2 separate regions of the Homo sapiens genome follow, and region 1 is linked to region 2. Evidence: fine-mapped expression QTL. A gene starts in region 2. The other region holds a variant in brackets. All regions are shown on one strand. Distances are between the middles of the regions. Region 1 overlaps IRAK2 (interleukin 1 receptor associated kinase 2). Region 2 holds the start of IRAK2 (interleukin 1 receptor associated kinase 2).

Region 1 (15,792 bases), 63 kb after region 2:
AGTGTCTTTTTCCAAAATTATACAGCTAATGCATGTCTGAACTGGGAGTTACACCTAGATCTGTCTGATGTCAAAACCCATAGTACAGGGTCAGGCACATGGCTCATGCCTGTAATTCCAGCACTTTGGGAGAGCGAGGTGGACGGATCGCTTGAGCCCAGGAGTTCGAGACCAGCCTGGCCAACATGGCAAAACCCTGTCTCCACGAAAAATACAAAAATTAGTTGAGAGTGGTGGCACGTGCCTGTGATCCCAGCTATTCGGGAGTCTGAGGCGGGAGAGTCACTTCAGCCTGGGATTTTAAGGCTACAGTGAGCTATGATGCTGCACTCCAGTCTGGGTGACAGAGCAAGACCTGTCTCAAAACCAGCAAACACAAAACAATGAAAAAACTCACAGTATCATGCTGAGCCCTGTGACAGAGGACATGAAGGGTGGGAGGAGGATCAGGAGCCTGGGACCCTGCCATCAGGACTTCGTTTTTTTGTTTTTGTTTTTGTTTTTTTTTGAGATGGAGTCTCGCTCTGTCACCCAGGCTGCAGTGCAGTGGTGCAATCTCGGCTTACTGCAAGCTCTGCCTCCTGGGTTCACGCCATTCTCCTGCCTCAGCCTCCCAAATAGCTGGGACTACAGGCAGCCGCCACCAGGACCGGCTAATTTTTTGTATTTTTAGTAGAGATGGGGTTTCACCGTGTTAGCCAGGATGGTCTCGATCTCCTGAACTAGTGATCTGCCTGCCTGGGCCTCCCAGTGTGCTGGGATTACAGGTGTGAGCCACCGCACCTGGCTGCCATCAGGACTTTAAAAAGGTACATTGTGACTATTTGTCCTCCTGCTTTTCTTTCTCTTAGGGTGGCTCGGACCCCCTCCCCTGGCCCCAGCGTGTCAGCATCTGCTCAGGGCTGCTCTGTGCCGTCGAGTACCTGCATGGTCTGGAGATCATCCACAGCAACGTCAAGAGGTGAGAGAGGTGGGCTGGACCCTGCTGGGGCCTGGGCTGCAAGGGTGGAACTGGTGCCTATTCCTGGCTCACCTCCCGCTCCGCCACTCACCCCTGTCCTCTTTGTTTTTCTCTTCCTACCTCCTCTCCTCTGCCCTCCCCTGGATGTCTTTTTCTCTGTTATGCCCTCAAAAATGAGTGTTTCCGGGCTGTGCTCCAAGTCCAATTGCTCTCAGGATGAATTGCCTACCTGTCACATTTGTCTTTCTGAGCTGCTGTTTTCCCAACAAGCCCTCCACACCTTGCTGCGTCGCACTGTCCACTCAGCAGCTGGCCTGGACCTCATCCTCGAACTTTGGGCCATGTCTGCCAACCCCCTGGGATTTTGAGCTCCTCGTTCAGTGTCTTTTCTGAGACCTGTCCCCTTCTTGTGTAGCTGTTGGTGTTAGCATCTTGTCTGGAAGGCTCCTGCAGGTTAGGCCTGCACCCCTGCATGTCAGTGCCATGCACATGAGAGGGAGAGGTCCCCATCTGGAGACGGTTAGGATAGGGAGGGATTCCGAAGATACCAGAATATCTGGCAGAACTGGCTCCAGAGACACAGAACTCGTATTTCCCCAAAGTTCTCTTTCCATTTGACTTGTGGAAGTCCTTTCCTCTTTTCTCTCCCCCAATTTTTTTTTTGTTTTTTGAGACGGAGTTTCACGCTTGTCACCCAGGCTGAAATGCAGTGGTGCGATCTCAGCTCACTGCAACCTCCACCTCCCTGGTTCAAGCGATTCTCCTGCCTTAGCCTCCTGAGTAGCTGGGATTACAGGTGCTCGCCACCACACCCAGCTAATTTTTGTATTTTTAGTAGATAGGCTTTCACCATGTTGGCCAGGCTAGTGTCGAACTCCTGACCTCAGGTGATCCACCCGCCTTGGTCTCCTATAGTGCTGGGATTACAGGTGAGAGCCACCACCCCGGCTCTCTCCCCTAATTTTTATTTGATTGCATCAATAATTCTAATAGCAGGCAAGGAAATGAAAGGGTGAGAGAGGTCACCACTAACCTACCCCATGACTCATCAGCTGGCCTCTAGGTTTTGTTTCTTTTTTCACTTCCTGCCTATACAAATCCTTAGTCCTGAGGTAGCACCTGGGTACCAATTCACATCCTGTTTTTTACCCCTTCATTTAAACATAGTAAACATTTCGCTACATTGTATACCGTCATGTTTTTTAGTGTCTTAGTCTTCCCGTGAAGGAATTTGCCCATAATTTACTTAACCACTCCTGGCACACACACCCGTGCATTTGCGGGCGTGCACACACACACACGCTAAAAAAGTTTTTTTTTTGGCCGGGCGCGGTGGCTCACGCCTGTAATCCCAGCACTTTGGGTGGCCAAGGCGGGCAGATCACGAGGTCAAGAGATCGAGACCATCCTGGCTAACACGGTGAAACCTCGTCTCTACTAAAAATACCAAAAAAAAAAATTTTTTTTTTTTTTTTTTTTTTTGAGATGGAGTCGCGCTCTGTGGCCCAGGCTGGAGTGCAGTGGCACAATCTCTGTTCACTGCAAGCTCCGCCTCCCAGGTTCACGCCATTCTCCTGCCTCAGCCTCCAGAGTAGCTGGGACTACAGGCGCCTGCCACCATGCCCGGCTAACTTTTTGTATTTTTAGTAGAGATAGGGTTTCACTGTGTTAGCCATGATGGTCTCGATCTCCTGACCTCGTGATCCACCCACCTTGGCCTCCCAAAGTGCTGGGATTACAGGTGTGAGCCACCGCGCCTGGCCAAAAAAAATTTTTTTTTGAGACAGGGCCTTGCTCTTTTGCCCAGGCTGGAGTACAGTGGCGCAATCTCAGCTCACCGCAGCTTCCCACCTTAGCCTCCCAAGTAGCTGGGACCACAGGCACGCACCACCATGCCGTGCTGAATTTGTTTGTTTTAGTAGAGATGAGGTCTTGCCATGCTGCCCATGCTGGTCTCAAACTCCTGGGCTCAGGTGATCCTCCTGTCTCGGCCTCACAAAGTGTTGGGATTACAGGCATGAGTCACTGCACCTGGCCTGCACTATATATCTGTACACATGTGGCTTAGCTTTTTCCCATTTTGGAGTATGTTCTCAGTGTTTGCTCCTGGGGGTTAGATGACTAGATCAAATGATTTTTTTTGAGACAGTGTACCACTCTGTTGCCCAGGCTGGAGTGCACCTCTGCTTCCGGGTTCAAGCAATTCTCCTGCCTCAGCCTCCTGAGTAGCTGGGACTACAGGCGCACACCACCACGGCTGGTTAATTTTTGTATTTTTAGTAGAGATGGAGTTTCGGCATGCTGGCCAGGCTGGTCTTGAACTCCTGACCTCAGGTGATCTGCCCATCTCGGCCTCCCAAAGTGCTGGGATTACAGGCGTGAGCCACTGTGCCCGGCCAAGAGGGAATTTTTTTTTCTTTCTTTTTTTACATGATCTGGGCAGGTTTAGTCACAAAGGATGCTGGCCACTTAGACCTGAGTCAGCCAGGCCAGAGCTGGGGGTTGGAACAGTTGTGGAAGAGACTGAGTCTGCACAGCCTGTAGGCGTGGCAAGCTGAGGCTGATCAGGGTTGGCATCTGTGGGGATCAGGGAGGCTGCACTTTGGCCACATTCCTGGGGCAGCAAGACTAAGTCTGAACTCCATCTCCATTTGCTGGAGGGAGTGTGCTCCTGATGCCCTCTCTTCCCCAGTCAGGGCTGGCTCAGAAGCTCCATGCTGAGGGTCTTTAGAGACCTCAACTTGCAGGAGGTGAGGTTGCTATATTGTCTCCCCAAAGGGTCTCCATGGCAACTTGTTGTTATCCAGCTCAAAATGAGAAGGTTCCCTCTCCTTTCATTTCCACAGCTCTAATGTCTTGCTGGACCAAAATCTCACCCCCAAACTTGCTCACCCAATGGCTCATCTGTGTCCTGTCAACAAAAGGTCAAAATACACCATGATGAAGACTCACCTGCTCCGGACGTCAGCCGCGTATCTGCCAGAGGATTTCATCCGGGTGGGGCAGCTGACAAAGCGAGTGGACATCTTCAGCTGTGGAATAGTAAGAGTGTCCTGCTCTGCGTAGAGTGGGGCCCACCTTGATTTGTCCTTCCCACGGCTCCTTTGTAATCACAGGATACGGTAGAGGCACACAGACAGGTTCCATCAAAGTACAACAGGGGCTGACAAACTGTGGCCCACAGGCCACTTTGGCCTGTGGCGTATTTTGTATGGTCTGTGAGCTAAGGGTAGTTTTACATTTATAAAGGATTATATTTTTAAACACAAAGAATATGTGATAGAGACTGAACATGCTCCCCAAAAGCTCACATATTTACTGTGTGGCGTGTTACAGAAGAAATTTGCCAGCCCTTGAAGGAAAACCACTCATGAGTGTCCAGGTTCTAGTAGGCTCCAGATATCCTCTCCTGACTTCCGTAATTCCCATCCAGCCATCCACTTGTCCATCCAGTTGTCTATTTGTCCTTATTTGTTCATCGCTGTCCGATCATCCATCTACCCTTTAGCTGCCCATCCATTCAGCGACCACTGACCCACCCAGCATCCCACCCTACCACCACCACCATCCTTGTCTGCCATTATGTCGTGCCAGGCACTAGGAATATGAATGTAACAAAAACACAGTCCCTCCCCTCAGGAGCTCATGGTCTGCATGTAGCAGTCTCCAAAGTATATTTCTGTAGAACTCCAGTTCCTTCGGACCTCTAGGATTGATGTGTTAAAAGGGTTTGTGCCCTGACAGGCTTGGAAATATTGCATTAGGCAAAGTCAAGCAGGTTTCTTTACCACAAGATTAATTCAAGCTGGTTGAATGGTAGTGAGCCTTTAATCTGGTACTTGTGAATTCACCAGAGAGGGGTATGCAGTGTTTCCCAAGCTCATTTGACTATGGAACCTTGTGTTCTCAGAATATCTGTCCTTGTCAGTGTTCCATGGAACCCAGTCTGGGAAATGCTGGCTGAGAAGAGTAACAGTCAGGTTGGCTTCAGCCAAGTGCATACAGCTGCCCCTTGGGCCTCACCCTCTTTTCTTCTCTAGCCTTGAACTCTGTACTTCCTCTCTCTGACCACAGTCTCCTGTCTGTCTACCTCTGCTACCAGAACCGTGGCCCTGAGTCACCTCTGCCCTCAGCCAGAACCCCAGATTCTGCACCTCCGTGTCTCCCAGCTGGTTCCTCTGCCTCCCTCAGCCCCACTGCAAGTTGTTCAGTGAAGCTCAGCAGGGCTAGTCCAGGCTCCTTCTCCTTTAAGAACCAGGGGGATGGGCAGGGAGTGGTGGCACATGCCTAAAATCTCAGTACTTTGGGAGGCCGATGTGGGCAGATCACCTGAGGTCAGGAGTTCAAGACCAACCTGGCCAACATGGTGAAACCCCGGCTCTACTAAAAATACAAAAATTAGCTGAGTGTGGTGGCATGTGCCTGTAATCGCAGCTACCTGGGAGGCTGAGTCAGGAGAATCACTTGAACCTGGGAGGCAGAGGTTGCAGTAAGCCGAGATCGCGCCATTGCACTCCAGCCTGGGCAACAGAGCAAGATTCTGTCTCAAAAAAAAAAAAAAAGAAAAAAAAGAACCAGGGGGATAGAACCCCTAGGCCCGGCTCAGTTACTTTCAGCTGTGTGACTTACACCTAGCACTTCTGTCTCTGGGCCTCAGTTAAGCCTTCTGTAAGATGGGGCTAACGATACACATGGAGATGAATGGGATAATGTATATAAGCAGGTGAGCATGGCACCCTGCACCCTGCACCTACCAAGAATATTATGATGACTGTGGTTATTGTTATTCCCACCTTTACACCCTCCTTCTGATATCTGTTTACTCTTGACCTTCTAACTGGTGTGTTAGCGTCACAGATGACTTCCTCATCCATCCATTCACCCTCCCACCTATCCATCTATTCATCCACCCATGCACCCACCCTCCCACCCACATACCCATCCATCCATCCATCCATCCATCCATCCATCCATCCATCCATCCATCCATCTACCACCCATCCATCCATTCATTCATTGAATGCCTCCTGGCTCCTGCCACCCTTTTGCTCAGCCCTGCCTCTGGTTGACTGATAACGCTTTTGAACTTTGATTCCTCCTGTGGGGATCACAGTGCATTGCTCAGTGTTTTTTGGTGAGTGCTCAGTGACCTCTATAAAGGACTTGGCTCAGAGCCTGCTCTGTGAAAGGGGCACAGGAAGTCTTTGTTTATTCATTTCCCCTTGTTCTGTCCCTTCCTGGCAGGGACCTGTCAGGAGTCCCTTTTCAATTGGCTCCTGTCCCACTTGCAGCAGTGATGCCCTCTGCTGCCCTTTTCTGGTCACTGCCAGTCTGTTATTAATCCTGGGTGGTTTAAAACCTTTATCCTTTCCTTCCTCCAGGCTTGGAGGGATTCTTGGCTATAAATGTGACCCTATTCTGACTTGCTTTGAGAGATGCTGTGGGAGAGAGGTTCCACACTAAGTGTGGGGTCTTCACACCTTTAATATTCACAACTGCTAGTCCCCATTTAACAGATGAGGACACTGAGGCTCAGGTTTTAGTTACTTGCCTAAAGATCACCTGAGCATATAAGGAACAGAGTCAGAATTTGAACTCAGGCCTGACTGTAGAGCCCTTAGCCATCATAGCATTGTCTCTACTGAGAAACCCTGTTCAAAGCAGTTTCCTGTTTATGAAGACATATATCATGGTTTGCCAATTTTGTGGTGACTTACACGTATACAGGGTTGTGCTCCTTCTGCGAGTGGATGCGCTAATGAATAAATAATGTTAGTAAAGGCCTGTGAGTGAAACATGCTATGGATGCTGCAAGATTTGTCTAGAATAGATACCTGCCTGCATGCAGAGTCTTTCCTTCCCTGAGATTCACAGAGCAATGCCTGCTTGCCATAGCTGAAGGTTTTTTGGTGTTTTTTTTTTTTTTTGAGACGGAGTCTTGCTCTGTCGCCCAGGCTGGAGTGCAGTGGTGCGATCTCAGTTCACTGCAAGATCCACCTCCCAGGTTCACGCCATTCTCCTGCCTCAGCCTCCCAAGCACCTGGGACTACAGGCACCCGCCACCGCGCCTGGCTCATTTTTTTGTATCTTTAGTAGAGACGGGGTTTCGCTGTGTTAGCCAGGATGGTCTCGATCTCCTGACCACGTGATCCGCCCACCTCAGCCTCCCAAAGTGCTGGGATTACAGGCATGATCCACCGTGCCCAGCCAGCTGAAGGATTTTTAAATGAAACAATCTTTAAAAAATAGTGTATATATACGTGTGTGTGTATCTATATTTATCTATACCTATATATATCTTATGGTAATACATATAAACACACACACACATGAATTTTTGAAAACCATCTTCTCTGCCTGGCTATCAATTAATTACAACCTTCCACTGGCAGCTTGGTGGCATCTTTAATTGGAGGAGGTGTTTAGTGATATTCCCATGTTCCAGATTTTGGGCAGGTGTGTCTGCTGGCAATGGCAGAGCTGCACCTGGAGCTCAGAACTGAGAAGAGAAGACAGAATCTGCTGCCTGGCTGTGTGCACGAGCGTCTGAACCATGCTAACTCACGTTCTGTTCTCTCCAGGTGTTGGCCGAGGTCCTCACGGGCATCCCTGCAATGGATAACAACCGAAGCCCGGTTTACCTGGTAAGGGAACTTGTCACATCTGGCTGGGAGGTATATTTGGGCCTCACAGCTCTGTAGAGAGGGCAACGACCTCAATTCTAGCTAGTTTTACACATGCAAATGAGGCCCGGTACAAGGTTGCATTTGCATCCCCACAAAGCAGCTTTAACCTCCCATCCCCACCTGCCAGCCAACCATTGCTTTTTCATGATAATAGCATCTGGGGCTTGGTGCGGTGGCTCATGCCTGTGATCACAGCCTTTGGGAGACTGATGTGGGTGGATCATTTGAGACCAGGAGTTCAAGACCAGCCTGGCCAACATGGTGAAACCCTGTCTCTATTAAAAAAAAAGAAAAGAAAAAACTTACAAAAAACCCCCAACATTATCCAGGTGTGGTCGCATGTGCCTGTAATCCCAGCTACTCGGGAGGCTGAGGCAGGAGAATCACTTGAACCTGGGAGGCAGAGGTTGCAGTGAACCAAGATTATGCCACTGCACTCCAGCCTGGGTGACAGAGCGAGACTCCATCT[CA/C]AAAAAAAAAAAAAAAAAAAGATTTTGGAATGTTTATAGAAAGCACTTGTATAAAAGAGAAAGCACTTCTCTATATATCAGGCAATTCATTAGGGATTTTCCTCAAATTGATAAAAGTTAATTTCAGCCCTTTTAAACAAGTTTCTATAATAAAAACAATTTCCATTTTGTAGGCCAAAGATCTGATATACACAGTCATTTAAAAAATATAACAACCTGGCTGGGTGTGGTGGCTCACACCTCTAATCCCAGCACTTTGGAGGAGGCCAAGGCGGGCGGATCACTTGAGGCTGGGAGTTCGAGACCAGCCTGGGCAACATGGCGAAACCCTGTCTCTACTAAAAATACAAAAATTAGCCAAGCGTAGTGGCACACACCTGTAATCCCAGCTACTTGGGAGGCTGAGGCAGGAGAATCGCTTGAACCCAGGAGACAGAGGTTGCGGTGAGCCAAGATTGCACCACTGCACTCCAGCCTGGGTGACAGAGTGAGACCCTCTCTCAAAAAAGAATAAAAATATAACAACCTAGCCTGACTTTGTGTTAAATACTTTCCATACATTATCTACCTAAATCATCTCAATTTTTCCATGATAGAGTCATTATATTCATCTGCAGATGAGGAAAGCTGGCTCTGAGTTTGGCCTAGGATCTCAGTTGGAATTACCAAGTGTCAGAGCTGGAATTCTGAGTCAGATCTCCCTGAGCCGACATCATGAGTTTTTTTTTTGTTTTTGTTTTTGAGACGGAGTCTTGCTCTGTCGCCCAGGCTGCAGTGCAGTGGTGCAATCTCGGCTCACTACAAGCTCCACCTCCCGGGTTCATGCCATTCTTCTGCCTCAGCCTCCCGAGCAGCTGGGACTACAGGCGCCCACCACCACACCTGGCTAATTTTTTTGTATTTTTAGTAGAGATGGGGTTTCACTGTGTTAGCCAGGATGGTCTCAATCTCCTGACCTCGTGATCCGCCCGCCTCGGCCTCCCAAAGTGCTGGGATTACAGGATCTTGAGTTCTTAACCACAGCAGTCTCCTGCTTGTTTCTTGTGACAGTCCAACCATACGAATTCAGTATTATCATTCCCATTTACAGCTGAGAAAACTGAGGGCAAGCTGAAGTGACTTGTCTCACGCCCCTCAGTGAGACCAGTGGTGGAAGTGGGGTTTAAATTGAACCCAAGGCTTTTGCAGAGTTTCAAATCTCATCCAAACTCTAGTCTTCCTCATCAGTTTGAGAGGGGGCACCTTTTCCTACTGGGTATTGAGGCCATTGGAACAGACAGATTATTATTTTATTTATTTATTTATTTCTGGTGACTGGGCCCCAGAAGCATCCCCTGGGCTCTGGGGTAGGGAGGCTGAAGGCCTCGCTACTCCATGCAGAAAGTCACGACATGTTCCTTTGATGAACTCTGTGAGTTCCACCCCTTTTGGGCAGTCAATCCCATATGCTGCAGAGAGGTCTGTCTGGGCAGCTCAGATGTGGTTTGGGGCTGTTTGGGGGCAGTTTCTCATCTCCTGACTATTTTCTTGAGATGGATTTCCCAGCAGTCCTCTGGGGCTCCCCGGACAAGTGTCACAGTGGAAGGAGGCTTTTGAGGCACTGACAGGAAGTTGTCTAGAATTATTTTTTTGCTAATGATTTCTAAAAATGTGGAAAATAACAATTTTTTAAAATGTAGTTTCTTTCTCTTATTCTAGACTCTTGTATGGTCTCTTATCATGTTCTGTTGTGGTAGGTGCAATCCAATGGTTAATCAAGATTTGAGTCAGGGAGGAAAGCTTGCTGATTTCCTGTGGCCCAGGGTAGGAGGAAGCAGGCCTCCTCCAGGCTTGGGAAAGTGTTAGTTGCCACAGTGTTTCCTGAGGGCATTTGGTGGTTTCCACCTAAATTGAAAATATGAGTACCCTCTGACACGGCAGTTCCATTTGTGCCTAGAGAAACATGCACACATGTGAGGAGAGGCAGATGAACAAGGATATTTGTAGTGGCATTTTTTTTTTTTTCGAGACAGAGTCTCGCTCTGTTGCCCAGGCTGGAGTGCAGTGGGCGTGATCTTGGCTCACTGCAACCTCCACCCCCCGGGTTCAAGAGATTCTCCTGCCTCAGCCTCCTGAGTAGCTGGGACTACAGGTGCGCATCACCACACCCGGCTAATTTTTGTATTTTTTTTAGTAGTGACAGGGTTTTGCCATGTTGGCCAGGCTGGTCTTGAACTCCTGACATCACTCAGGTGATCTGCCCACCTTGACCTCCCAAAGTGTTGGGATTACAGGAGTGAGCCACTGCGCCTGGCCAAATTTAATTTAATTTGATTTAGAGATAGGGAGGGGTCTTGCCCTGTCACCCAGGCCAGAGTGCAGTGGCATGATTGTAGCTCACTGCAGCCTCGAATGCCTGGGCTCAAGCGATCTTCCCATCTTGGCCTCCCAAATTGTGAGGATTACAGGTGTGAGCCATGGCGCCCAGCCTGTATGAGTTTTGACAAATGTATACAGTCATGTAACCACCACCACAATCAAGATACGGAATATTTTTGTCACCCCAGAAAATTCCCTCCACTTACAGGTCCTGGCAATTACTCATCTAATTTCTGTCCACATAGCTCTATCTTCTTTAGAGGGTCATATCAATGGGCCCATGGCAGATGCACCCATTTGTTTCTGTCCCCCTTCATGTAGCATGGTGCTTAGATTCATCCATGTTGTTGACGTGTCAGTAATTCATTCCTTTTCATTGCTGAAGAGTATTCCATTGTATGGATAGATGACTGTTTATCCATTTACCAGTTGCTGGACATTTGGGTTATTTCCAGGTTTTGGCAATTCTGAATAAAGCCAACACAAACATTCTTATTTTAAAAAAATGAAAAAGAGGCCGGGCACAGTGGCTCACGGCTGTAATCGCGGCACTTTGGGAGGCTGAGGTGGGTGGATCACTTGAGTTCAGGAGTTCAAGACCAGCCTGGGCAACATGGTGAAACCCCGTCTCTACTAAAAACACAAAATTAGCCCTGTGTGGTGGCGAGTGCCTGTAATCCCAGCTACTCAGGAGGCTGAAGCAGGAGAATCGCTTGAACCTGGGAGGCAGAGTACAGTGAGTCGAGATTGTGCCACAGCACTCCAGCCTGGGCAACAGAGTGAGACTCTGTCTCAAAAAAATAAAAAAGTAAATTGAAAAAGACATGTATGTTCTGACAGGGACATATCTCCAAGTGAACAAAGCAAATTCAGAATAGTATATAGTATGATCACATTTTTGCTAAAAATAGATGGATGAATGAATGAAAACATTGTATCACATATTTTCTTCTCTATAAATTGAGGATAATAGTAGTACCCCCCCCCACCGACAAGGTATGTTTGTTTGTTATCATTTTTGGAGATAGGGTCTCCTATCTCCTATCTTCTTTGTCACGAAGGCTGGAGGAGTGCAGTGGCATGATCATAGCTCACTGTCACCTCGAACTCCTGGGCTCAAGGGATCCTCCCACCTTAGCCTCCCGGGTAGCTGGGATTATAGGCATGAGCCACTGTGCCTGGCATCTGACAGGTTTATTGAAGGTTAAATAATATGTGAGATGCCTAAAATAGTAACTAGAACATAATAAACAATATATGTTAACTATTAGTATTATCATTATTATTTGAGATAAGGTCTCTGCCACCCTGGCTAGTATGTAGTGGTGCAATCATGGCTCACTGTAACCTTGTACCCCTGGCCTCAAGTGATCCCCTGCTTTAGCCTCCCAAGTAATTGGGACCACAGGCACGTGCCGCCACTCCTAGCTAATTTTTATTTTTATTTTATTTATTTATTTTTATTTTGAGACAGAGTCTTGCTCTGTCGCCCAGGCTGGAGTACAGTGGTGCAATCTCCGCTCACTGCAGCCTCTGCCTCCTGGCTTCAATTGATTCTCCTGCCTCAGTCTCCCAAGTAGCTGGGATTACAGGCATGGACCAACATGCCCAGCTAATTTTTGTATTTTTAATAGAGACAGGGTTTCACCATGTTGGCCAGGCTGGTCTTGAACTCCTGACCTCAAGTGATCCACCTGCCTCGGCGGCCTCCCAAGTACCTGGGACCACAGGCATGTGCCCTCACGCCCAGCTAATTTTTAATTTGTTATTTGTAGAGATGGGGTCTTGTTACGTTGCCCAGGCTGATATTGCTATTATTTTAACAGCTTTTAGGATACTGTTATAATTATTATATAAGTAAATATAAAACCAAAATAATTATAGCTGTATAGCAGAAAATAATATAATCCAAACTATTAGCAGGAGTTACCTTTGGAGAGTAGAAATGAAAGGTAAACTTTTGTCCCCAAATTTTAACCACTTATGTTTAATTTTAATTTTTTTTTGAAATGGAGTCTCCCTCTGTGGCCCAGGCTGGAGTACAGTGGTGTGCTTTTGGCTTACCACAACCTCTGTCTCCCAGGTTCAAGCAATTCTCCTGCCTCAGCTTCCCATGTAGCTGGGATCACAGGTGTGTGCCACCATGGCCCAGATAATTTTTGTATTTTTAATAGAGATGGGGTTTTGCCATGTTGCCCAGGCTGGTCTCGAACTCCTGAGCCCAAGTGATCCTCCTGCCTTGGCCTCCCAAAGTGTTGGGATTACAGGTGTGAGCCACCGTGCCCAGCCAAAAGTTGCTTTTTAAGGGTGGTTTGTTTGAAACTAGACCCCAAAAATGTCCATATATTACTTTGGTTATGTTTGTTTTTTTCATTTTTAAAAAAAAATTTTATGTGGAGATGGGATGTCACTTTGTTGCCCAGGCGAGTTTCGAGCTCCTGGGCTTAAGCATTCGCCTGCCTCAACCTCCCAAAGTGCTGACATTACAGGTGTGAACCACCACGCCCGGGCATGGTTATGTTTCTTAAGACTCTTATTCTTGGCCGGGCACGGTGGCTCAAGCCTGTAATCCCAGCACTTTGGGAGGCTGAGGCAGGCGGATCACAAGGTCAGGAGATCGAGACCATCCTGGCTAACATGGTGAAACCCCGTCTCTACTAAAAATACAAAAAAATTAGCCGGGCATGGTGGCGGGTGCCTGTAGTCCCAGCTACTCGGGAGGCTGAGGCAGGAGAATGGCATGAACCCAGGAGGCGGAGCTTGCAGTGAGCCGAGATCGTGCCACTGCACTACAGCCTGGGCGACAGAGCGAGACTCCGTCTCAACAACAACAACAAAAAGACTCTTATTCTCTCACAACCTCTCCCGCAATGCCCTTTTTCATTTTGGATGTCGTTGGATTTTTGCATAGACTAGGTCATTTGCCCTATGTAGACAGACTGTCTCACATTCTGGGTTTTGCTCATTACATCCTGTGGTCTCCTTCCCTTGTTTCTCTATTCCTCATATTTCCTATATTTGGCAGTTAGCACTTGTGACTTGTTTAGAGTCATGGTCATTGCCTTTGTCAAGAACACTTCCTGGAGGCGCTGTGAGCCTCCCATTGCTTCACTACACGGGGCGTAGCCTGTTGTCCTACTTTTAGTGCTAAGACCGATCAGTGTGTTAAGGTTTTAGTGCTAAGATTGATCAGTGGTTTCAGGTGGAGCTGCCGACTCCTCCATGGTGAAGTTCCCTCGACATCCTTTCATCGCGTGTTCTCAGTCCCCCAACCCCTGTTTAAACACTAGGTGTCTTCTGTAGTTTTTTTGATTATCGTCATAGTCTTTGCATCAAGATACATAGCAATGATGGCAGGTTTCCATTTGGGGCAAATTGTGAGACCCTGCCTCTAGAAAAGAAGAAAATAATACACTTCTACTGTTCTTGATTATCAGCTTTAAACACTAGTACACTTTAAAAAAAAAATAAACATTTAGGCTGGGTGCAGTGGCTCACACCTATAATCTGAGCACTTTGAGATGCCAAGACAGGAGGATTAGTTGAGCCCAGGAGTTCAAGACCAGCCTGGGCAACATAATGAGACTCCATCTCTACAAAAAATTTAAAAATTAGCCAAGTACAGTAGCATGTGCCTATAGTCCCAGCTACTTGGGAGGCTGAGGTGGGAGGATCGATTGAATCGAGGAGGTTGAGACTGTAGTGAGCTGTGATTATATCACTGTGCCCGGCCTATTTTTATTTTTATTTCTTATTTATATTTTGAGACGGAGTCTCACTCTGTCGCCCAGGCTGGAATGCAGTGGCGCAATCTTGGCTCACTGAAGCCTCTCCCTCCCCAGTTCAAGCAATTCTCCTACCTCAGCCTCCCGAGTACCTGGGACTATAGGCACGCACCGCCATGCCCGGCTAATTTTTTGTATTTTTTAGTAGCGACGAGGTTTCACCGTGTCAGCCAGGCTGGTCTCGAACTCCTGACCTCGAGTGATCTGCCAGTCTCGGCCTCGCAAAGTGCTGGGATTACAGGCATGAGGCACCGCACCTGGCCTACAATACATGTTTTTACAATATTTAGTATGTTTGTAACATTCATATATGCTAATCATATATACCATATTACTCATGAAATATACAATATAATTTATATTAAATATGCTTACATATTTGTATAAAATTATTATATAGCATATGTTCTATTGTATGCATAGTTCAGATTGCTGCATTTTATGTGGTACAAAATATAAAATATATGTAAATACAAAATGTATAAGAAGTATAGACATAATATTTTCTTTATAGTGGCTCTCCTGTTATGTATATAGGTCAGAATCCTACATTTGAAATGTTTGTATCATAAGAGATTGTCCATGTAGTTAATAAGATTAAATTATTAAGTGCTTATCATGTAGTAAGTGCCATATAAATGGTAGCTATTATTACTATTAGTTATTATCACTAAAAGACTATTGAATGTTCCGTGTCAGATGTCACTCTCTGTGCTTTAGGTGCACTGTTTCATTGAATGGTTGTGTTAGTCCTAGGTGTAGGTATTTTATTATTTTTTTGAGACAGAATCTCGCTGTCACCTAGGCTGGAGTGCAGTGGCGTGATCTCAGCTCATTGCAGCCTCCGCCCCCCACCTCCCCCACCATAGGTTCAAGCAATTCCTCTGCCTCAGCCGCCCTAGTAGCTGTGATTACAGGCGTGCACTACCAAGCCCAGCTAATTTTTATATTTCTAGTAGAGACGGGGTTTCGCCCTGTTGGCCAGGCTGGCTCGAACTCCTGACCTCAAGTGATCCACTCGCTTCTGCCTCCCAAAGTGCTAAGATTACAGGCTTGAGCCACTGCGCCCGGCCCTGGTGTAGGTATTTTTGTTGTTCCCATTTTCCTGATGAACCAACCGAGGCCTAGAAAAATTAAGGCCCCACGTTTGTGGCATGAGTTCACTATGGAGTGCCCTGTGCATGTAGGAAATCGAATCCTTCTCCATTTCTTGGGGGTTTTACTTCTTTCTGGAATCCTTGCATTTATTCTTACGATGTCCGGTCGGTTTTCTGAGCATTTTTTGCAGCTCTGGAGGTGAGTGGGGCGCGTGCGTTGGCTCTCGCAGCTCTGCAGCTCACGCAAGGGCGTTTCTACCCTTCTTCCCACAGAAGGACTTACTCCTCAGTGATATTCCAAGCAGCACCGCCTCGCTCTGCTCCAGGAAGACGGGCGTGGAGAACGTGATGGCAAAGGAGATCTGCCAGAAGTACCTGGAGAAGGGCGCAGGGAGGCTTCCGGAGGACTGCGCCGAGGCCCTGGCCACGGCTGCC
Region 2 (15,792 bases):
TACAAACTAATGGCAGTAATCTCTCTCCCTGTCTGTCAGAAGGAAAAACACGAAAGATTGTTTCGTTCCAATTGGGAAAAGTTGAATCCTGGGGGCCTGGAGCTGGCCCCACAGATGCTGATAACAGAGCTGAGGTTACTGAAAGGCTTGGGGGAAGTCCTGTTGAACCATTTCATCTTAACATAAGTTGGAGGAGACTTAATTGGGCAAAGGACAGTTTAGCAATTTGCTTGATGGGGAGTGACATGAGTTGATGGATCTTCCCTTGTAGGAGGGTGTTCATTACCTAGGCCCAACCCAAGAATTTTGAGAACTCTTGTTGTAGCTATTCCATGCTCAGAAACCTCTGATAGGAACTGTGGTAAGGGCTCGTATTAGTCTGTTCTCATGCTGTTATGAAGGAATACCCAAGACTGTGTAATTAATAAAGAAAAGAGGTTTAATTGACACAGTTGCTCACAGCTGGGGAGGCCTCAGGAAACTTAACAATCATGGTGGAAGGCACCTCTTCACAGGGCAGCAGGAGAGAGAATGAATGCCAGCAGGGGAAATGGCAGATGCTTATAAAACCATTAGATCTCATGAAAACTCTGTCACCATTGGCCAGACGTGGTGGCTCACGCCTGTAGTCCCAGCACTTTGGGAGGCCGAGGTGGGTGGATCACAAGGTCAGGAGTTCACGACCAGCCTGGCCAAGGTGGTGAAACCCTGTCTCTACTAAAAATACAAAAATTAGCCAGGCGTGGTGGCGGGTGCCTGTAATCCCAGCTACTCGGGAGACTGAGGCAGAGAATTATTTGAACCTGGGAGGCGGAGCTTGCAGTGAGCCAAGGTTGTGCCACTGCACTCCAGCCTGGGCGATAGAGTAAGACTCCGTCTCAAAAAAAAAAAAAAAAAAGAAAACTCTGTCACCATCATGAGAACAGCCTGGGGAAAATTACCTCCCATGATTTGATTAAACCCTCCCATGATATATGGGGATTACAATTCAAGATGAGATCTGGGGGGGACACAGCCAAACCGTATCAGGGCTGTTCCAGCAGGTCTGGATTACCCTGGCGTGGAGCAACTCCAAGCAGTAGGGAGGATTTTGAGAAGGTCTAGTGTGCCTCTGGGGCAGCTGTTTTCCAAATACTCGTTTATACTTGGCAGCCTCCAGGATTTCCACCCCCCTGATAGATGCAGAAAGCAGATCCCTCTGGAACAGACTCCAGTATTGGAAATAAATGTACATGTATGGGAGATTGCCCAAATTAAGTATGGCACTCCTAAATAAGCCATTAAAAAGGATAGGGGGCCAGGCGCTGTGGCTCACACCTGCAATATCAGCGCTTTGGGAGGCTGAGGCTAGAGAATCACTGGAGGAGAGTTTGAGACCAGCCTTGGCAACATAGTGAGACCTCCGTCTCTACCAAAAAAAAAAAAAAAAAAAAGGTAAAAAGAATAGGATAGGATAGAGGTTTACTCATCTTTCTGAGAGAGAAAGAGTAGCCACTTTTTTTTTTTTTTAATTTTTTTCTTGAGAGAGAATCTCATTGTGTTGCTGAGGCTGGAGTGCAGTGGCGTTAGCTCACTGCAACCTCCACCTCCTGGGTTCAAGCAATTCTCCTGCCTCAGCCTCCTGAGTAGCTGGGATTACAGGTGCACGCCACCATGCCTGTCTAATTTTTAATATTTTTCGTAGAGACAGGGTTTCACCATGTTGGCCGGCTGGTCTCGAACTCCTGACTTCAAGTGATCTGCTCGCCTTGGCCTCACAAAGTGCTGGGATTACAGGCATGAGCCACCACACCTGGCTGAAATTTTTATTTTTTAAATTATAATAGAGACAGGGTCTTGTCATGTTGCCCAGGCTGCTCTTGAACACCTGGGCTCAGGCAGTCCTCCCGCCTTGGCCTCCCAAAGTGCTGAGATTATAGATAGGCATGCACCACCACACCTGGCCTTATGTTTGTTTTTCTTAAAATTTTTTTTGTTTGTTTCTGTTTTTTTGTTTGTGCTTTTTTTTGCCTTTTTTCTTTTTTTTTTTCTTTCTTTCTTTCTTTTTTTTTTTTTTTTTGAGACAGCGTCTCACTTTGTCACCCAGGCTGGAGTGCAGTGGCGCTATCTGGGCTCACTGCAAGCCCCACCTCCTGGATTCACGCCATTCTCCTGCTTCAGCCTCCCGAGTAGCTGGGACTACAGGCGCCCGCCACCACGCCCGGCTAATTTTTTTGTATTTTTTAGTAGAGACGGGGTTTCATCGTGTTAGCCAGGATGGTCTCGATCTCCTGACCTCGTGATCCGCCCGCCTCTGCCTCCCAAAGTGCTGGGATTACAGGCGTGAGCCACCGCGCCCGGCCTCCTTTTCTTTTTTTTTGAGACAGAGTGTTGCTCTTGTCGCCCAAGCTGGAGTACAATGGCAGGATCTTGGCTCACTGCAACCTCCGCCTCTGGGTTCAAGTGATTCTCCTACCTCAGCCTCCCGAGTAGCTGGGATTACAGGCATGCGCCACCACGCCCAGCTAATTTTGTATTTTTAGTAGAGATAGGATTTCTCCATGTTGGTCAGGCTGGTCTTGAACTCCTGATCTCAGGTGATTCGCCTGCCTCGGCCTCCCAAAATGCTGGGATTACAGGTGTGAGCCACTACACGCAGCCATTTTTTAACAGAGATGGGGTCTCACTATGTTGTCCAGGCTGGGCTCCTGGGCTCAGGCAGTCCTCTCTCCTTGGCCTTCCAAAGTGTTTGGATTACAGGAATGAGCCATGGCACCCAGCCCATCACAATTTTAGATGTTCATCTTTGCTCCAGAAAATCTAGTTTTAGGAATTTACCTTAAGAAAGAAAAAACAAGTGTGAATAGATGTATGTATATGAAGTTTGCTGCAGTATTATTTAGAATAGCATAATACTGGAAATAAAAGTATACTGATAGGAGTTTGGGCACATATAGTATGGTGTTCCTAAATAAGCCATTAAAAGGGAAATAGTACTATGCTCATATAATGACAGGAAAAGCTATTAATTGAAAAAAAAACAGAAAATTAAATGTTAAAAAAATTTTTTTTTCACCATAGTGTCTGCAAAAAAGAAAATATGTTTAAAAAATTGGCCAGTCACGGTGGTTCACGCCTGTAATCTCAGCACTTCGGAAGTCCGAGGTGGGCAGATCACGAGGTCAAGAGATCAAGACCATCCTGGCCAACGTGGTGAAACCCCGTCTCTACTAAAAATACAAAAAACTAGCCAGGTGTGGTGGCATGCGCCTGTAGTCCCAGCTACCTGGGAGGCTAAGGCAGGAGAATCACTTGAACCCGGTAGGCGGAGGTTGCAGTGAGCCGAGATTTCGCCACTGCACTCCAGCCTGGTGACAGAGTGAGACTCCTTCTCAAAAAAAAAAAAAAATCATTTTGTATAGGACTAAAAACATGTAAAAGGAGTATATACTCCAAACAATAATGGTGATTCCTCAGGGATGAGGTTATGGGAAGGTGTTTGTTTTCTCTTTCTTTCTGTCTTTGACAAATATCACATGCTATCAGAGAAACCAATAAAGATATTTTTGTTAAAAAAAAATATAGCCGGGCGCGGTGGCTCATGCCTGTAATCCCAGCACTTTGGGAGGCCGAGGTGGGTGGATCACCTGAGGTCAGGAGTTTGAGACCAGCCTGACCAACATGGAGAAACCTCGTATCTACTCAAAATACAAAATTAGCTGGGTGTGGTGGCACATGCCTGTAACCCCAGCTACTCAGGAGGCTGAGGCAGGAGAATTGCTTGAACCCAGGAGGCAGGGGTTGCGGTTAGCCAAGATCACACCAGTGCACTCCAGCCTGGGCAACAAGAGCAAAACTCCGTCTCAAAAAGAGAGAAAAAAAAAGAAAAATATATGCAAAGTGCATAGAGAAGCTTTATTATTCTCCTTTCATCAGTCTTCCCTCCTGCTCCAGCTTTTTTTTTTTTTTTTTTTTTTTTTTTGATATGGAGTCTCACTGTGTCCCCCAGTCTGGAGTGCAGTGGTATGATCTTGGCTCAGTGCAGTCTCCACCTCCCGGGTTCAAATGATTCTCCTGCCTCAGCCTCCCAAGTAGCTGGGATTACAGGTGCGTGCCATCACGCCCAGCGAATTTTTTTGTATTTTTAGTAGAAACGGGGTTCCGCCGTGTTGGTTGGGCTGGTCTCGAACTCCTGACCTCAAGTGATCCACCCACCTCGGTCTCCCAAAGTGCTGGGATTGCAGGCATGAGCCACCATGCTTGGCCTCTGCCCCAGCTTTCTGATATGACTGGTTCTCAACTGTGCCAGCACATATTAGAATTATCTGGGAAGCTTTAAAAAACAGTAGTGCCTGAGCCCCACTCCAGAATAATTGAATCTGTCTCCCTGGAGGTAGGGCTAGGCATTTATACTTTTTAAAAGCACCCCAGATGTTTCTACTGTGCAGCCAGGGTTGCAAACCACTGACTATAATTTCAAGGGAATTAAACTTGAACAGCTCAAAATGACGTAAGTGTGTAATTAATTACATTCAGCCTCAATAACTGTTTCTAACTGATCCTGGTGGGTGTTGGTCATGGAAAATAGCCAGAGGAAGAAATTAACTGCAAGATCAGAGGAAATTTCTTGTGGTGAGGCAGTATAACACAGCAGAAAGAGCATTTGCTTTGGGTCAGACTTGAGTTGCATCCTGTTGATGCGGGACAGGCAAGCCCCCAAATTGGGGTTTAGCCTGGGAGGGTTCTTAGCTTCACCCAGAAAGGAATTCCAGGGCCAGCCAGTGGTGTTAAATAGCACCTTTTATTGAAATAGCAGTGTGCAGCCGCAGCAGAGGTACTGCTCCTTGCAGGGTAGGGCTACTCCATAGGCAGTGTGCCCAGAGTAGTGGCTCAGAGGCAGTTCTACAGTCACATTTATACACACTTTTAATTATATGCAAATTAAGGGGCAGTTTATGCAGAACATTCTAGAAAGGGGCGGTGACTTCTTGGAGTCGCCATGGCAATGGTAAACTGACAAGGTACACTGGTGGCAGTGTCTTATGCGAGGTACTTCCCACCACACCTGTTTTAGCTAGTCCTCAATTTGGTCCGATGTCCCAGCCATTCCTTTCGAGTCGAGTGCTGCCCCCTACCTCACTGTCACTTGGCCAACTTGGCCCAGTTACAATTGACTTCAGCCTCAGTTTCTTCATCTGTAAAACAGAAACAATAAACCTTTGCAGGGTTGTATGGATTACAGATAATGTATGCTAAATGCCTGCTAGGTGAGTTGGTAGGTGAAGGGCAACCATTAGTAATAGCAAAGACCTTACTTTGAAGAACTTATTCTAAAGAGTGGTAACTGAGATGTGTCCCTGTGATGACCTGCTCAGGCCCAAAATGACTCAAGCTTCTCTGGAAGACAGAATCCTAGGACACAGATCCCAAGCCCTGAGGCTGGGGTGAGAAGGAATTGCGGGAAGGGCCTGAGGATGCAGCAGAGAGAGCAGTGGGGGCTCCTCTGCCTTCCAGGATTGACCAAGGCTGAATGTGAAACTTCCGTGGTCTTAAAGCCTCACCCCAGGGAAGAGGCCCTGTGGCACTGAGGGAGGAGCTCTACACACACGCTGCTTGCGGAAGAGAAGGAGAAGCAGGTAGGGGACTCTGCAAAAAGAGAAAAGGAGAAAAAGAAGAGGATCTTTATTCTCTTTTACCCCCGTGTGCCTGGGATGGAGATGCTTCTCCACCCAGCCTATGGCAAACAATCATTACAGTTCCCAAGTCCACCTTCAGCCACTGCTGAAAACACAGGACTTCACTTGAAAAGTAGTCTCAGAACACTGAAATATGTCCCACTTTCAACATCAAGGAGGACATAATAGTAATCCTTTACTGGGCTCAGCACTTCACAGTTGATCTTGAGCGTTTTGGAGTCCATTTAGGCTTCATAACAATCCTTCCAAGTGGCTGCAGCAGGAGATCCAGTTTCCAAAAGGGAAAACAGAACTGGCTCAAAGGACTAAGAGCCGGAGAGTGGCTGAACCAGGTCTCCAAACTTGATAGGACTCCAAGGCCAGTGGGTGCCTTTTCAAGACCACTAATGACAGCTACCATTTTTTGGGCACATTCTCTGTGCGAGGAAAGCCCTGTAGTAGGTGTTCTATATAGGCTACATAATTTGATTTATTCCACTCCCCTCACAACTCTAAGCAGTAGGAAGGAGCAGGCCCACTTTACAGATGCTGGAAACAAGGCTTGACGAATGAAATGAGTTGTCCAGAGTCACAAAGCCTGTTGGTGGCAGAACTGCAACTTGGCCCTAGGACTTCTCACTTTGATTTCAGCTTCCTCCTTTTGCAGCGCTACTCCATAGCTGACGGCCACAGCTATACAGTGGTACCTACTCTAGTTACTTATCTGCCCTTCGTGACCTCGCCTAACCTCTTGGAATCTATTTACTTCTGTGTAAAATGGGGATAATAATATCTATAGTATAGGCTTGTAAGAATGACATAAGATCATTTTTGCAAAGTACATTGTAGATACAGATAAATGTATCTGTATCTACAATATACTTTAGCCAGTGGTGATGGAGAGCCTGGGGTCAGAATACTTAGGTTCAAATGATTTTAGCCATATTATTTAACCTCTCTGTGCCTTAGTTTCCTTATTTGTAGAATGGGGCTATAACCATACCTACCTCAGAGGGTCATTGTAAGGAGTAAGTAAAGTAACCCAGGTGAAGGCTACACATAGTAAGTGCTCAATAAATACTAGCTATTTTATATATGTGTGTGTGTATTTTATATATATATATATATATATATATATATATATATATGTATACACACACTATAAATTCTGTTCCTTGTACCCTCTTTGTTTATTTAGAGACAGGGTCTCACTCTCACCCAGGCTGGAGTGCAGTGGTGCAATCTTGGCTCACTGCAATCTCCACCTCCTGGGCTCAAGTGATCCCCCTACCTTAGCCTCCCAAGTACCTGGGACTACAGGCACATGCCACCATGCCTGGCTAATTTTTGTAGAGACAGGGTCTTGCTCTGTTTCCCAGGCTGGTCTCGAATTCCTGGGCTCAAGCGATCTGCCTGCCTCTGCCTCCCAAAGTGCTGGGGTTATAGGTGGGAGCCGCCGCACCCAGCCCCTTATACCCTATTTAATAATCCAGTTTGTCCTGCAGTCCCCTGCACCATACTCTGCTTTTTTCCCAGTAATAGTATCATCTAAGATAATGCAATTGGCCACTTGCACTCCCTTTTACCACCCTCTACTTTTATTCTTTCTTTTCTTTCTTTTTTTTTTTTTTTTTTTCAGAGACAGGGTCTCATTCTGTCACTCAGGCTGCAGTGCAGTCATAGCTCACTGCAGCCTCAAACTCCTGGGTTCAAGAGATCCTACCACCTTAGCCTCCTGAGTAGCTGGGACTATAGGTGTACACTACCATGCTTGGCTCATTTTAAAATTTTTTGTAGAGGCCAGGCGTGGTGGCTCATGCCTGTAATCCTAGCACTTTGGGAGGCCGAGGCAGGCGGATCACGAGGTCAGGAGTTCAAGACCATCCTGGCCAACACAGTGAAACCCTGTCTCTACTAAAAATACAAAAATTAGCTGGGCGTGGTGGCGCGTGCCTGTAATCCCAGCTACTCGGGAGACTGAGGCAGGAGAATTGCTTGAACCGGGACCTGGGAGGCAGAGGCTGCAGTGAGCCAAGATTGCGCCACTGCACTCCAGCCTGGGCTACAGAGCAAGACTCCGTCTCAAAAAAAAAAAGTTTTTTGTAGAGATAAGATCTTCCTATGTTGCCCAGGCTTCTACTTTCATTCTCCAACATAGCTTATCTGCCTATTTTTATTGCTTGTTGTCTGTCTCCCTCCAGGACAAGGATTTTGTCCTTCTCTTCAGAGGTATTCCCAGCACCTACAACAGTGCCTGGCACATAGTAGCTGCACGATACATATTAGCTACTATAGTAAAGTCTACCTGACTACCCTATTTAATAGAATATTCCCCATGCTCAATCTGAATTCCTGATTCCCTTTAACCAACTTTTTTTCCTTTTTTTTTTTTTTTGCAATAGTGCTTATTACCTTTAAGACACTCTGTAACATACTATATTTATTATTTATTGTTAGTCTTTCTCTCCACACCTAGATTGTAAGTCTTATGAAAGCAAGGGCTTTTGTAGGCTTTTTTTTTTTTTTTTTTTTTTTTTTGAGACAGAGCCTCACTCTTCACCCAGGCTGGAGTACAAGGGCACAATCTGGGCTTACTGCAACCTCCGCCTCCAGGGTTCAAGCGATTCTTCTGCCTCAGCCTCCCAGGTAGCTGGGACTACAGGCGTGCGCCACCGTGCCCGGCTAATTTTTGTATTTTTAGTAGTGACGGGGTTTCACCATATTGGCCAGGCTAGTCTCGAACTCCTGACCTCGTGATCCGTCCGCCTCGGCCTCCCAAAGTACTGGGATTACAGGAGTGATCCACCGCGCCCGGCTGTAGGGTTTCTTATTCAGGTATTACCAACACCTAGGGAGTTGCCTGGCATACAGTAGGTAATTAATGGAGTATTTGATGAGCGCATGATGCATGGTGTAGTGCCGATGGAAGTGGGGTCAGAAGGCCTCCTGCCGCTGCGGCAGAATTCCCGTGTGGCCTTCTCCCACCAGGGCCTCAGTTTCCCCTCGCAGTTCCGATTCTCTGGCCGGCGCTGGGGTGGAGCCGGCGGGGCCGTCGTGCCGCCCGTGGCCGCTGGGGACGCTGGTGCCCTCCCGCCCCGCCCACTTCCCCGCCGGTCCGCCCCTGGCTAGAGAAGCCGCAGCCCGCAGTGTCCGACCCAGTCGTCCCGCGCCGGAGCCGGCCCCGTAGCGTGCCATGGCCTGCTACATCTACCAGCTGCCCTCCTGGGTGCTGGACGACCTGTGCCGCAACATGGACGCGCTCAGCGAGTGGGACTGGATGGAGTTCGGTGAGTGCGGCCCGGGGAGGGGAGGGGACCAGGGCGACCGGAGCCCCCAGCGATCCCGCCTGGAGCGGCCGCCAAGCTCCCTCGGGCACCCGGGTTCAGCGGGTCCCGATCCGAGGGCGTGCGAGCTGAGCCTCCTGGACCGGGTCCGCCGCGGACCTCGGCCTGTCACCTGAAGGTGCCGCGTGGTCTCTGAGGACGTCTGTCGACGAGCAGGGGCCGCCGCCACTGCGCTCTGAGTCCAGAGAACGGTGGGTACGGGGGCCCTCCTGTCAGCGCTGCTGGCTCGGTGACGTCCCCAGGTGGCCTCTCATCCAGCCCACAACAGCCTGCAAAGTGCGAGCCTCGACCCTGTAGGGACCCACGGTGCTGTCACTTCTTGGGGGGGTGTGTGTGTGTGTGTGTGTGGTGTGTTTAGTTTTAGTGTATATTAGAAGGATCTATGATTTAACATATATATATATATTGAAACGGAGTTTCGCTGTTGTTGCCCAGGCTGGAGTGCAATGGCACGGTCTCGGCTCACTGCAACCTCCACCTCTGGGATTCAAGCGATTTTCCTGCCTCGGCCTCCCGAGTAGCTGGGATTACAGGCGCCCGCTACCACCCTGGCTAATTTTTTGTATTTTCAGTAGAGACCGGGTTTCACCATGTTGGCCAGACTGGTCTTGAACTATTTTTTTTTTTTTTTTTTTTTTTTTTTAAGACGGAGTCTCACTCTGTCGCCCAGGCTGGAGTGCAGTGGCGCGATCTAGGCTCGTTGCAAGCTCCGCCTCCCGGGTTCACGCCATTCTCCTGCCTCAGCCTTCTGAGTAGCTGGGACTACAGGCGCCCGCCACCACGCCCGGCTAACTTTGTATTCTTAGTAGAGACGGGGTTTCACCGTGTTAGCCAGGATGGTCTGGATCTCCTGACCTTGTGATCCGCCCACCCTGGGCCTCCCAAAGTGCTGGGATTACAGGCATGAGCCACCGCGCCCGGCCTCCGGAACTCTTGATCTCAGGCGATCCACCTGCTTCGGCCTCCCAAAGTGCTGGGATTACAGGCGTGAGCCACTGTGCCCAGCCTATTTATCATATTTGTGATTAAATGTACTTTACCATTATAGTTTTAAAATCAGATATTTACTTTTAGTGTACATTGTTTTGATCACAGTATTTATGACTATCAACCTGTTTTGAGATCAGATGTGTCCTAATAGATTCAGTGTGTATAATGGGGCCTAAGCACAAGCACTTACTTTCACTCTATTGCAAGGTGCACAGTTCTAGATAATTCCGTGGGAAGGCACTCAGACAGCCTCCATATGTTTTGTTTGTTGGTGCCTGACGGATGACTGGCGGAGAGGGCCATGGACTCTGCGGGGAGGCCGCTTGCCTGTTGTCTCTGCTTTCCAGGTGGAGATCTGCATTCCAGGCTCTTGCTGTATGACTTTGGGCCAGTTTGTTAACCTCTCTGAGCCTCAGCTTCTGAATCTGTATGTAAACTGGAGATGATAATTATAGCTTCTTCATAAAGTTGTGAGGAATGAAAATACTGTATAAAAGCACTGACACCTAAGTGTTAAATATTCTTATAAGTCATAAGTTGTAATATTCTCTTTTCATTTTTATTTTTTTGAGACAGTCTCATTCTGTGGCCCAGGCTGGAATGCAGTGGCGAGATCTCGGCTCACTGCAGCTTCCGCCTCTTGGATTCAAGTGATTCTCTTGCCTCAGCCTCCCGAGTAGCTGGGATTACAGGCATGTGCCACCACGCCCACTAATTTTTATGTTTTTAGTAGAGATGGGGTTTCGCCATGTTGGCCAGGCTGGTCTCGAACTCCTGACCTCATGTGATTTGGCCGCTTTGGCCTCCCAAAGTGCTGGGATTACAGGCGTGAGCCACTGCTCCTGGACCTGGCTTCACTACTTTGAATGTTTCCTGGGCAGTGAACAAACTTTGTGTGAGACTCCCTCTCATTTTTTCCACATTGGCCCAGCCCTCAGTTACAAATGCCAGAACAACTTCTGTTTCTAGGAAATTCAATTAGAAGGCATACCTATGACTTAAAAAAAAAATAAAGCTTTACTGAGATATTCACATACCATACAATCCACCTGTTTCAGGAGTACAATTTAGTGGTATTTAGTATATTCACAGGGCTGTGTATCCATCTTCACAATCAATCTTAGAACATTTTAATCACCCGAAGAAGAAACTCTGTACCCGTTAACTTCCAATCCCCTCCTTCCATTTTCCTGAGTTTTAGACATTGCCTATTTTGGACATTTCATATAAATGGAATCATATAATATATAGTGCTCTGTGACTGACTTGTTTCAACTAACATGAGGTTCATCCATGTTGTAGCATGCGTCAATACTTAGTTTCTTTTTTTTTTTTTTGAGACGGAGTCTCGCTTTGTCACCCAGGCTGGAGTGCAGTGGCGCAATCTCGGCTCACTGCAAGCTCCACCTCCTGGGTTCATGCCATTCTCCTGCTTCAGCCTCCCTAGCAGCTTGGACTACAGGTGCCTGCCACCATGCCCGGCTAATTTTTTTGTATTTTTAGTAGAGATGGGGTTTCACTGTGTTAGCCAGGATGGTCTTGATCTCCTGACCGTGTAATCCACCTACCTCGGCTTCCCAAAGTGCTGGGATTACAGGCGTGAGCCACCGCGCCCAGCCAGTTTCTTTTTATTGTAGGATAATGTTCCATGGTATGGATATACTACATTTCATTCATTTATCAGTTGTTGGGCATTGGGTTCTTTTCACTTTTGGGCCATTGTGAATAGTGCTGCTGTGAACACTCACATACAAGATTTTGTGCAGTGGTGCAAATGTAGCTCACCGCAGCCCCAACTTCCTGGGCTCAAGCGATCTTCCTGTCTCCTGAGTAGCTGGACTACAGGTGTGCACTGCTGCACCCAGCTAACTTTTGTATTTTTTGTAGAGACAGGTTTCACCATGTTACTCAGGCTGATCTTGAACTCTGGAGCTCAAGCGATCTGCCCATCTCACCTTCCCAAATTGCTGGGATTACAGGTGTGAGCCACTGCATCTGGCTTTATGTTTAACTATTTGAGGAGCTACCAGATGTTTTCTAAAGTGGCTGAACCACCAGTGTATGAGGATGACCATTTCTCCACATCCTTGTCAACATGTGTTATTTTTTTCTTTTTTTAATTTTTTTTTTTTTGAGACAGAGTCTCGCTCTGTCGCTGAGGCTGGAGTGCAGTGGCATGATCTCGGCTCGCTGCAACCTTAGCCTCCTGGGTTCAAGCGATTCTTGTGCCTCAGCCTCCCAAGTAGCTGGGATTACAGGCATGCACCACCGTGCCTGACTAATTTTTGTATCTTCAGTAGAGACAGGGTTTCACCGTGTTGGCCAGGCTGGTCTCAAACTCCTAACCTCAGGTGATCTGCCCGCCTCGGCCTCCCAAAGTGCTGGGATTACAGGTGTGAGCACCATGTCCGGCCTTATTGTTGCTTTTTTGATGGTAGCCACCTGAGCCAGTGTGAAGTGGCATCTTACTGTGGTTTGATTTGCATTTCCCTAATGACTAATGCTGTGGAGCATCTTTTCCTGTGCTTGTTGGCCATTTGCACATCTTCTTTGGAGAATACCTCTGCGAGGCTCCCCACTGGGATGGATATGATCTGAACACCTTGCCAGGCATGTTGACTCTGACACATCTGCCCAGTGCTGGCCTCTCTGACCTCCTCTTCTTCCACACCCACTGTCACTCCCCTGCTCCAGCCACACTGACCTCCCTGGGCCAGACACAGGGTCTTTGCAGGTGCTGTTCCCTCTGCCTGGGACGTTCTTCCCCCTGTGTTACCTGGGGCTAGCTTTCTAGTCTATTAGTTTCCTCCTGTTGCAGTTATAGATTACTACAATATCAGGGGAACCAGCCCGCAGTATTTCAATGTAGGTTCTTTTCTATTTTCCCTAAGTGTCGGCCGGTCTGAGAAATAAAGAGTACAAAGAGAGAAATTTTACATCTAGGCCTCTGGGGGTGCTGTTACACATTGGTAGGACCGTGATGGTGACCCCGAGCCACAAAACCAGCGAGTTTTTATTAGGGATTTCAAAAGGGGAGGGGTGTACGAATAGGGAGTAGGTCCCAGAGATCACATTCTTCAAAGGGCAATAAAAGATCACAAGGCAAAGGTGAAATTAGAATTACTGGTGAAGGTCCATGTCCCACTGGGCACGCATTGTCTTGATAAACATCTTAACAGGAAACAGGGTTGGAGAGCAGACAACCCGTCTGACTAGAATTCACCAGGCTGGAATTTCCCAATCCTAGTAAGCCTGAGGGCACTGCAGGAGACCAGGGCATATTTCATCCCTTATCTCAACTGCATCAGACAGACACCCCCAGAGTGGCCATTTATAGACCTACCCCGGGAATGCGTTCCTTCCCCAGGGTTATCAATTATTAATATTCCTTGCTGGGAAAAGAATTCAGCGATATTTCTCCTACTCACACGTCCATCTATAGGCTCTCTGTGAGAAGAAAAATATGGCTCTATTCTGCCCGACCCCACAGGCAGTCAGACCTTATGGTTATCTTCCCTTGTTCCCTGAACATCACTGTTATTCTGTTCTTTTTCAGGGTGCCCTGATTTCATATTGTTTAAACACCCACGTTTTACAATCAGATTTCATATTTTTCAAACACACGTTTTACAAACAATTTATACAGTTAATGCAATCATCACAGGGTCCTGAGGTGACATACATCCTCAGCTTATGAAAATGATGGGATTAAGAGATTAAAGACAGGCATAGGAAATTATAAGAGTATAAATGTCCATAAAATCTTCACAATTTATGTTCAGAGATTGCAGTAAAGACAGACGTAAGAAATTATAAAAGTATTAATTTTGGGAACTGATAAATGTCCATGAAATCTTCACAAGTTGTATTCTTCTGCCGTGGCTTCAGCCGGTCCTGTTCGGGGCCCCTGACTTCCCACAACACTACAAAGTTGGTGGCCTGTAACACCTCAAGTTTATTATCTCAGCATTCTGGAGGTCAGAAGTCCTAACTCAGGGTGGCTCTAGGGAGGAGTCGGTCTCCTGGCCTTGACTGGCTTCCTGAGGCCTGCAGCATCCTGTGGCTTATGGCCCCTTCCTCCATCATCAAGGCCATGGGTGTGTATCATCACATCTGTCTCTGTGACTTCTGCTTCTACCATCACCTCATCTCTGAATCTGATGTTCTGGCCTCCCCCTTACAGGGACCCTGGTAATTACCTTGGCCAGACCCAGAGAATCCAGGATAATCTCATCTCAGAATCCTTGATTTAATCTAACCTGCAAAGTCCCTTTTGCTATGTAAGGTACCATATTCACAGGTCTCGGGGCTTAGGATGTGGATGTTTTCCAAGGGTATTATTCTGTCTGTCACAGTCCTTCAGGTAAGCTCCTGTGGCACCTCTTTGAAATCAAGAGGACTTTCCTGCCCCTGTTCCTCTCTAGCCCATCACCGTGTTTCATTTCCCTCATTCCGCTTCACAGCCTTTGATGTCCCCTCGTTCCTGAATTTTTTCCACCTGTCTCTCCCTATGGAATGGAAGCCCCGTGCGGGCAGGGGCCTTACCTGTCTAGTTTTTCACTGCTGTATTCCCAGAGCCTGGGACAGTGCCTGGCTAGAGGGCAGGTGCCAGAATGAATGATGAGCTGCCAGGCCTTGGTGTGGTGAGGATGCGGGCTGCCCACTCTTACCCATTGGAGCTGGCCTGGAGCCTTTGGTCAGCCCACTTCCTACACTGGATCAGAGCCAGCGGTGCCTCCGGCCCACTGCTCCTCGCCCAGTCCCAGTGCTCCAGTTCCCTCTTCAGCTGAATGAACGAGTGACTGTGATTGACCCTTCAGTCCTAAAAATTCTTGGCTTCCTGTGGGTCATTTTAGAAAGAAGACAGTCCCTCAGAGCTGATGGTGATACTGGGAGAGTGTAGTGAGAACGCTAAAGTGATTCAGAAGATCCCGCAGCCACAGACAGCCACGCTCTTTCAGATCCGACACTTGTTGGCAGATAATCTGGCCACGCCTAGTTCTTGTCTCCGTGATGGCAGCTGCCTCTGTTGGGCTTTGCCTGAGCCTGTGTAAAAAGGGTTTCCTACAGCTTCAGCCCCAGGTGTGTGCAGAGGGGCTCGGCGCAGGGGCTCTTCTGTGTGTGGCCGTTCCCCGTCTCGTTCACTCATGCGTGTGCCAGCCTTTGTGCACAGCCCTGCTTTGCCCTGCCCAGCTGTGTGACATCAGGCAGGTGACTATCTCTCTCTGAGCCTTTAGTTTCCTCATCCATGAAGCACCCTCACAGTGTTGCTGAGAGGCTTAGGAGACTCAGCTTATTGTAAAGGGTCAAGTTAGGGCTTTCCTCATCCCCCACCCAGGGAGGGGTGTGGGCATTCGATTCTAAGATGGGTCATTTCAGGAGGCTGTGCCATCCCTGCTGTGGAGGACTTTGAAGACAGGCAAGGTTTTCTACTGCCTCGGGTGAACTCCTGCAGGATTCAGGAACTCAAGAGTGATAGTCCCTGTACTGTTAATCATCAGGGATAAAAACATTTTCAGGCCAGGTGCAGTGGCTCACGCCTCTAATTTCAACACTTTGGGAGGCCTAGGTGGGAAAATTTCTTGAAGCCAAGAGTTTGAGACCAGCCTCGTGATCCGCCCGCCTCAGCCTCCCAAAGTGTTTGGATTACAGGCGTGAGCCACTGCACCCAGCCTTTTTTTTTTTTTTGAGACGGAGTCTCACTCTGTTGCCCAGGCTGGAGTCCAATGATGCAATCTCAGCTCACTGCAACCTCGGCCTCCTGGGTTCAAGTGATTCTCCTGCCTCAGCCTCCAGAGTAGCTG

Evidence for each region.
Region 1: its variant is fine-mapped to the expression of IRAK2 in monocytes after LPS (Quach 2016, PIP 0.95).

Annotation. Positions count from the first base shown.
Region 1 is chr3:10,218,829-10,234,620 of GRCh38, forward strand. It overlaps IRAK2 (interleukin 1 receptor associated kinase 2), which reads left to right. Exons shown (of 13, transcript NM_001570.4): 8 at 852-961; 9 at 3,808-4,003; 10 at 7,543-7,605; 11 at 15,631-15,792. Among named protein-coding and RNA genes, the nearest start is that of TATDN2, 22 kb to the right of the region's middle. RefSeq lists enhancers at 6,476-7,258, 7,434-7,483, 15,280-15,792 and a silencer at 7,597-7,891. The variant CA/C (reference allele first, on the strand shown) is at 8,117.
Region 2 is chr3:10,156,108-10,171,899 of GRCh38, forward strand. It overlaps IRAK2 (interleukin 1 receptor associated kinase 2), which reads left to right and starts at 8,812. Exons shown (of 13, transcript NM_001570.4): 1 at 8,812-8,941. The coding sequence starts at 8,848. RefSeq lists silencers at 8,647-8,776, 8,977-9,126 and an enhancer at 12,880-13,390.